2 linked regions of the Homo sapiens genome follow. The protein of the gene in region 1 purifies or fractionates together with the protein of each later gene. This does not show direct contact. Each region holds a gene or a part of one and is shown on either strand. Other genes may lie near its edges. The genes, in order: NFATC2IP and PDLIM5.

Region 1 (3,820 bases):
GGCAGGGCTTCACCATATTGGCCAGGCTGGTCTTGAACTCCTGATCTCAAGTGTTCCCCTGTCTCAGCTTCCCAAAGTGTTGGGATTACAGGCATGAGCCACCGTGCCTGGCCTATTTTATTTTTTAAACATAGAGATGGGGGCCAGGCATGGTGGCTCATTCCTGTAATCCCAGCACTTTGGGAGGCCAAGGTGAGAGGATCACTTGAGGCCAGGAGTTCGAGACCAGCCTGGGCAAAATAGTGAGACCTTGTCTCTACTAAAAATAAAAAAATTAACCAGGCATGGTGGCACATACCTGTAGTCCCAGCGACTTGGGAGGCTGATGCAAGAGGATCTTCTGAGTCCAGGAGTTGGGGGCTGCAGTCAGCTGTGATCATGCCACTGCACTGCAGCCTGGGTGAGAGAGCAAGACCTTGTCTCTTAAAAAAAAAAAAAAATGGAGATGGGATCTTGCTTTGTTGCTCAGGCTGATCTTGAACTCCTGACCTCAAGCAAACCTCCCGCCTCGGCCTCTCAAAATGCTGGGATTATAGGTGTGAGCCATCATGCCTGACCAAGTGCTTTAAAAATATACGAGTTTGTTGTCACCTTTGTGATGGGTGATTTCATACAAAGGTCCAGATTTCTGGCCGGGTGCAGTGCCTCACGCCTGTAATCCCAGCACTTTTGGGAGGTGAAGGCAGGCAGATCACCTGAGGTCAGGAGTTCGAGACCAGCCTAGCCAACATGGTGAAACCCCATCTCTACTAAAAATACAAAAATTAGCTGGGCATGGTGCCACTGCCTTCCAGCCTGGATGAAAGAGCGAGACTCTGCCTCAGATCTCACCTGAGATCAGGAGTTCAAGACCAGCCTGGCCAATATGGTGAAGCCCGCCTCTACTAAAAATAGAAAGAAAAAAAAAAGGTCCAGATTTCTGGCTTCTCTTAAAAAATAAGAAGATGTGGCCAGGTGCGGTGGCTCACACCTGTTATCCCTGTAGTTTGGGAGGCCGAGGCAGGTGGATCACCCGAATTCAAGAGTTCAAGACCAGCCTGGTAGGAGAATCACTTGAACCTGGGAGGCGGAGGTTGCAGTGAGCTGAGATTGCGCCACTACACTCCATCCTGGTTAACAAGAGCGAAACTCCGTCTCAAAAAAAAAAAAAAGAAAAATATAGGAAGATGTCATACTGGCCCACGTTCCCACACAGTGCCAATCAGCTGGAGCTGCGTAACAGCCAGCCTGTCTAGGTGGCATGTGAATTCCAGTTTGCTGCAATCCCCACCACCCCTTTCTTTGTTCTAACCCATGGCTGCTATATTTCTTTGTGTTACTCGCCTGTACCCCTTGCTGACACGATTTTATTCTATACCTTGCCAGGTAAATATGATGAAACTCACAGCTGAGGAGCTTAGCAAGTAGCTAAGGCCAGAGCTTGTGTTTGGGTGGTGTGGCTGGGGGCATGGATTTCAAGGCAGGAAGACCTCTTTTGCTTGTTGTCCCCATCCCTAGTCGGAGCCCCTGCAGAGTGTGGTGGACCACATGGCCACCCACCTTGGGGTGTCCCCAAGCAGGATCCTTTTGCTTTTTGGAGAGACAGAGCTATCACCTACTGCCACTCCCAGGACCCTAAAGCTCGGAGTGGCTGACATCATTGGTGAGAGGAAGGCAGGGAGGTGGGGCCTTGAGGCATTTGCCAGGGGAAGGGGATATGGGGAGAGGTTCAGCACGGGCCCTGCTTCCAAGCCCCCACTTAGCCCTGGCTTCCTGATTCTGCCTCCCACAGACTGTGTGGTACTAACAAGTTCTCCAGAGGCCACAGAGACGTCCCAACAGCTCCAGCTCCGGGTGCAGGGAAAGGAGAAACACCAGACACTGGAAGTCTCACTGTCTCGAGTGAGTGGGAGAGATGGCTCTCCACGCCCCTCACCCTGTCCTCTGCTGCCTCTTGTCTCTCTTGTCAGTTAATGGAGGATGGATTCCCCTAATCTTGACTTGCAGGAGACACTGCCCTCCATGTTCTTGGGTTCCCAGCCATCCTAGGTAGTGGGAAAACCCATCGTTCAACTTCCCTCCCCGCTTCTACTGGTACCCTCTGCCCTAGTCTGGGTGCTCCCTCGGTCTCCTGACTCCTTCTGATTAAAACAGAAAGGACCCTTAGACGGTAATCAATAAAACCCATCAAAATAACAATGAAGGCCACACGGCTAAGTGCTAGTCCCCGTGCTGAGGATAATTTCCTCACATTCAGGATCTTATTTAATTTCACAACAATCTGATGTGGGCCACAAAGCACTGTTGTTATCCTCATTTGGCAATAAGAAGATTGAGTTCTAGAGAGGTGGAATAAGCAACTTGGTGCAGTCATTTTTTTTTTTTTTTTTTTTTTGAGATAGAGTCTCGCCCTGTCGCCCAGGCTGAAGTCTGGCATGATCTTGGCTCACTGCAGCCTCTGCCTTCCGAGTTTCAAGTGATTCTCTTTCCTCAGCCTCCCGTGTAGCTGGGATTACAGGTGCACGTGCTGGGCTAATTTTTGCATTTTTAGTAGAGACAGGGTTTCACCATGTTGGCCAGGCTGGTCTCAAACTCCTGACCTCAAGTGAGCCACCCACCTTGGCCTCCCAAAGTGTTGGGATTACAGGTGTGAGCCACCGCGCCTGGCCTGCTGCATTCATTTCTTAAGTCTACTGTTAACGAAATACACAAATTGGGTGGCTTAAAACAATAGAAACCTATTCCTGTACACTTCTGGAGCCTAGAAGTCTGAATTGAAGGTGTTGGCAGGGCCTGGTTCCGTCTGAGAATCTGAGTGGAAACCTTCCTTACCTCTTTCTAGCTTCTGCTGGTGGCCAGAGTTCCTTGGCTTGCAGCTGTGTCACTCCAGTCTCTCCCTCTGTGATCACACGGTGTTCTCCATGTGTCTCTGTCTGTGTTCGTCTCTCTTCTTGGAAAGACATAGGTCATGTTGGGCTAGCCCCACTCTAACCAAGCACAACCTCATCTCAACTTGATTATATCTGCAAAGTCCCTACTTTAAATAAGGTTACATTCACATTTACTAGGGGTTAGGACCACAAAGTGCCTTTTCAGGGGAATACAGTTCAACCCTTAACACACTGTTCTCTAGCCCCCACCAAATTCATGGCCTTCCCATCTGCAAAATATATACATCCCATTCCAATATCCCTACAAGTCTTAACCCATCCCAGCATCAACTCTTAAGCCCAAAATCTCATTTAAATATAATCAACTCAAGAAGTCCCAATCTTATTTTCTAAATCATTAAATCAGTTTTGGATGAGACTTGGTATGGTCCATTCTGGGACAAAATTCCTCTCTCTCTCTCTCTGCGGACCCGTGAAATCTAGAAAATAAGTTATTTGCTTCTAAAATACAGTGATGGGACAGACATAGGATAGACATTCCCATTTCAAAAGTGAGAAATTGGGCCAGGTGCAGTGGCTCACACCTGTAACCCCAGCACCTGTAATCCTAGCTCCCCAGGCGGCTGAGGCAGGAGGATTGCTTGAGCCTGGGAGATCAAGGTTGTAGTGAGCCATGATTGCGCCACCTTTATTGGAAACTTTTATTCCAGTTACCAATAACACATTCCTCATTTCCTCCAGAGACCTCACCAGAAACACCTTTAATATTCATATTTCTAGCAGCCTTCTGTTCATAACAATATATGCATCCTGTTAAGATGATAGGAGATTTCTCTGCACCTCTCCTCTTTGTGAGCCTGCAGGGACATTCCCTTTAATGTCCATATTTCTACCAGCAGTCTCTTCAAGGCAGTCTAGGTTTTTCCTAACATACACCTCAAAATTCTTGC
Region 2 (3,820 bases), on another chromosome or scaffold:
GTCATCAGGTTCTTTAATTAATAGTATCAAGAAACAATTAAAACCTGAAAGCATGCTTAAAACATGTAATTTAATGATTCACTTACTTTAATAATGCACATGAAATTCTTAGCAAGGTCTGGCAGTCTCTCAATTATCTTTTATAATAATATTATAAACTTTAAAAAGAAAACTATTTAGAGACTTGAAACATTAAATATTTAACCCCCGTAGTTGTAGGGAACATACAGTTATGGTTTTGTTTTGTTTTTTTAAACTTATTGTCCACTGAAATTAAGAAAGGAAAAAAAATCAGAAGTTTGTACTTAGCTGGGAATCTGCATCTTTAGAGTTCAAAACTGTGCAATTTTTCCTCTGATTAGGTATTATTATGTTGAACTCCAAAGGGTCATTTACATTCCTTTATAACACTGGAGCTCTGGTGTATCGAATTGTGTTATGAGATAAGCCACTAGCAGGGACTTGAACATTCCATTTTCTTTAGATTTTGTTGTATCAGCATGTGAATATGCTGAATACAACTTGTATCCTAAAGCATACAAGCTATAACATTTTCACGTTGGACTCAAATTTCTTCATCATCTGTATTGTATGAATTTTGTATACTGTTTTGTTGGTGGATTTCTAACATAAGATTGCCAGTTCCTGCTAGCTTTTTAAAAAGATCCTCAGGTTGCTGTAGCTGGATGATCACATGTCATTTAATTTCCGATCCTTAAAATGGAGTGCGGGCTACCTAAGTTTGCAGGCTGTCTTTTTATGATCCTGTGTTTATGGAATTGCCCTGAAGCCATGGAATGTGAGGATGGGTTTCATTGTAGCAGTGTGGGTTTGTTGGTTTTTGCCAGTATATTTTATAACAAGAAATAGGAGACTTGTTGGATAATTCAAGGCTATATTTTGGCCAGTTGATAAAGATTATATATTTGTGAGTAACATCTTTTAAGTTGTTATATCCTAAAGTTGAAATACTCTGCTGTGTGTTACTTTCTCATTATGTTTGGGCTCTTTTCTTCACTGTCAATATTTGGATTACCTGAAGATGATATCCCAATTCTCTGTAAACACATTTTAGATGTTTCTTTAAGAGATAAGAATTAGGTCAAACTTTTTAACATCTAAATAACAATGACTTTGATTCTCAAGAGTTAGGGGAGGATAAATTGTTATAAGCTTGGACAAAATTCTAATTGGATTTGAAAAGCAGAAGAAACTTACTATTGCTTGGATTATGGAGCCCTGTTTGGGAGTCTAACACAGAACAGAGAAGGACAGAATTGTGAAACACTTTGCTATGAATTCATTGATTCAGTAGTTATAGTAATACTTCCTAGAAGCCACTGAAGAAGATACAAAGTGGGGAGTACAAAGGTTGGATGGAAAAGAAATAAGCACAGTGCTATAGAACTAGACAGTGTCGTAAGACCTGTCACAAGTCAATATTCTATGAAATGACAGATTCTGATAAGTGTTTCTCAGTTTCAGTGGGTGTAAATCTTTTGTTTGTGGGGGTTGGTTTCCTTTAGGAGAAGTTAATTGAACTGATCCTCAAAGGATGAAATTTAAACACCTCAAAGTCAGCATTTCTCCGTGTTGTCCAGTGCCTAGTGAAGATGAAGACTTTTCTTGCCATTGCTTGACTCCAAGTAAAGCTGTGAATGTAGTTGAGCGATTCTCCAGACCTGCCAGCTGCAGTTTCCCTCCTACCGGAAGACAGAAAGACTTTCAGTCCTCAAGCTGAAATGAGAGAGCCATCCTACCTTGAATAAATGGGCCCATTGTTAATTTTAAGCTCTTGAGTATTTTCTTTTATATTCCCTCCAAGCTACCCTGTCATTATGCCAAGTTAGAAAATTAATTTAGTTTGTATAACTATATGATGTATATTTCACATGTGTGTTCACTCTGCTTTAAAAATATTAATTACCTTTTGTGTGAAGTTCAGAGACCTGTCTTTTCCCATGTGGCAGTTTTATATGTTTTGTGGTCACAAATGTCAGGAATCTCAATGTAATTCTGGATAAATTTTTCTGCTCTATGATTTGTAAAGAAATGAAAATCTTATATTTTTTAATTGAAAATTAGTAGTTTTAGAAAAAAACGCACTTATTTGATTTTAGTAAACGTTGGGCATTTTGAAAAGTTATTCAGAGAAATGTTACTGGTAGGCAGGACTTTTGTATCTGATGGAGGAAACCGATGTAGGGTTTGGATAAAATAAGACTAGCAGGCTGGGCACAGTGGCTCACTCCTGTAGTCTCAGCATTTTGGGAGGACAAGGTGGGAGGATCACTTGATACCAAGAGTTCAAGGTTACAGTGGGCTGTAGTCATGCCACTGTACTCCAGTCTGTGCCACAGAACCAGACCCTGTCTCAAAAAAAAAAAAGAAAAAAAAAAAGGTAAGAATAGCACTTTAGACCTTGGGAAAGAACGTTTTCATGTAACTATTCATCTACTCGTGAGTTAGGTATATCTACCTACTTAAACTAAGAATAGATAGATAATAGATAATGTACAGCTGTATATTGGAATGACTTGGATTTAAATCTTAGCTGGAAAATCAGTTCATTAATTTGAGCTTCTGATTTTCTTTGATGTATGGGAAATGCTTTATAAATTAAAAAGTATACAGGTAGATTTGATTATTATTAATAATTTGGAGCCTGTGAGCTTTCAATTTTTTTTAGAACTTCTGAGGCAAAGAGCTTTTCTTTATGATAGTTGCTAGTCACACTACATGTGAATACACAGTTGAACAGTGGTCTTTGTCTATGACATCCTGTTAGCAGTAGTTCTTACCCAGATTCCCATATACCACAGGACCAGTTATATCTTTTTCCCCCAGTTACAACTGTATTGAGGACAAATCAGTTATGATTTAGTTATTTCTAGAAGCAAACGTTGCTTTAGACAAAAAAGGAGTTATTTAGCATCGTATGAGAGAGAATTATGTTTCAACTTTGGCAGATGAGACTCTAGGCCTTTATTTCAGTATCTGAGATGCAAAAAATATTGAGTACGTGACATAAAATTTGACAAAACTAGATATTAGCATGTGAAATAACAATATGTGGATCTGTTTGCAAATAAATGACCTAATGGAAATGAAAAGAGAAAACATTAAGTAACTAAAGAGCAGTGACCATGGTGTCTACTGATTCTTTAGGTATTCTATGTGTTGGGCCACTATATAGTCTTGTTGAGAAGGCAGGTTTGGTTCCTTAATTAACAGAGAGGGAAAAATCACTTTTCTAGCGTACTTTGTTTTTATTAAGAGGTTTTTTTTTTAAAGGTAATAAACTAAGAATGGACAAAGCAGAGAATATTGAATGAGTATCCCCTTATTCCTTCACCTTTCTTATTTTTTTGTTTCCTGTTTAAGTATAGTTATCTACCCTTCTGTAAATACTCAGATTTCTTTTATAGCTGATGTTGTCACCCATTTTTTATGACAATTACTAGAACAGAGTTCACCAACCTTGTTGGCATTTAGTAACTGGACTCCCAACTGGGCTAAGCAGTTGTAGTAAATGTCCCTAATAGGCGTAAATAGAGGAGAGTAAAATGAACTGGAAATGTTAATAGGAGGGAATGAGAAAGAAAAAGTTAGATGAGAGAAAAAAATAAAGAGGACTTTTTAAAAGGCTGCAGCGTGTCACCCAGGCGGGAGTGCAGTGGCGCGATCTCGGCTCACTGCAACCTCCACCTCCTGGGTTCAAGCAGTTCTCTGCCTCAGCCTCTTGAGTAGCTGGGATTACAAGCATTCGCCACCATGCCCAGCTAATTTTTTTGTATTTGTGGTAGAGACAGAGTTTCAC

What was found.
Region 2: the proteins of NFATC2IP (region 1) and PDLIM5 purify together in Homo sapiens (affinity purification with mass spectrometry; 2 studies listed by BioGRID and IntAct, with this or other methods). This does not show direct contact.

The regions. Positions count from the first base shown.
Region 1 is NC_000016.10:28,957,220-28,961,039, forward strand, and holds part of NFATC2IP (NFATC2-interacting protein), read left to right. Parts: intron 1-1,363; exon of another isoform or gene 1,364-1,442; intron 1,443-1,497; coding exon 1,498-1,642; intron 1,643-1,771; coding exon 1,772-1,881; intron 1,882-3,820. UniProt on the Homo sapiens protein: In T-helper 2 (Th2) cells, regulates the magnitude of NFAT-driven transcription of a specific subset of cytokine genes, including IL3, IL4, IL5 and IL13, but not IL2.
Region 2 is NC_000004.12:94,458,245-94,462,064, forward strand, and holds part of PDLIM5 (PDZ and LIM domain protein 5), read left to right. Parts: intron 1-3,820. UniProt on the Homo sapiens protein: May play an important role in the heart development by scaffolding PKC to the Z-disk region. May play a role in the regulation of cardiomyocyte expansion. Isoforms lacking the LIM domains may negatively modulate the scaffolding activity of isoform 1.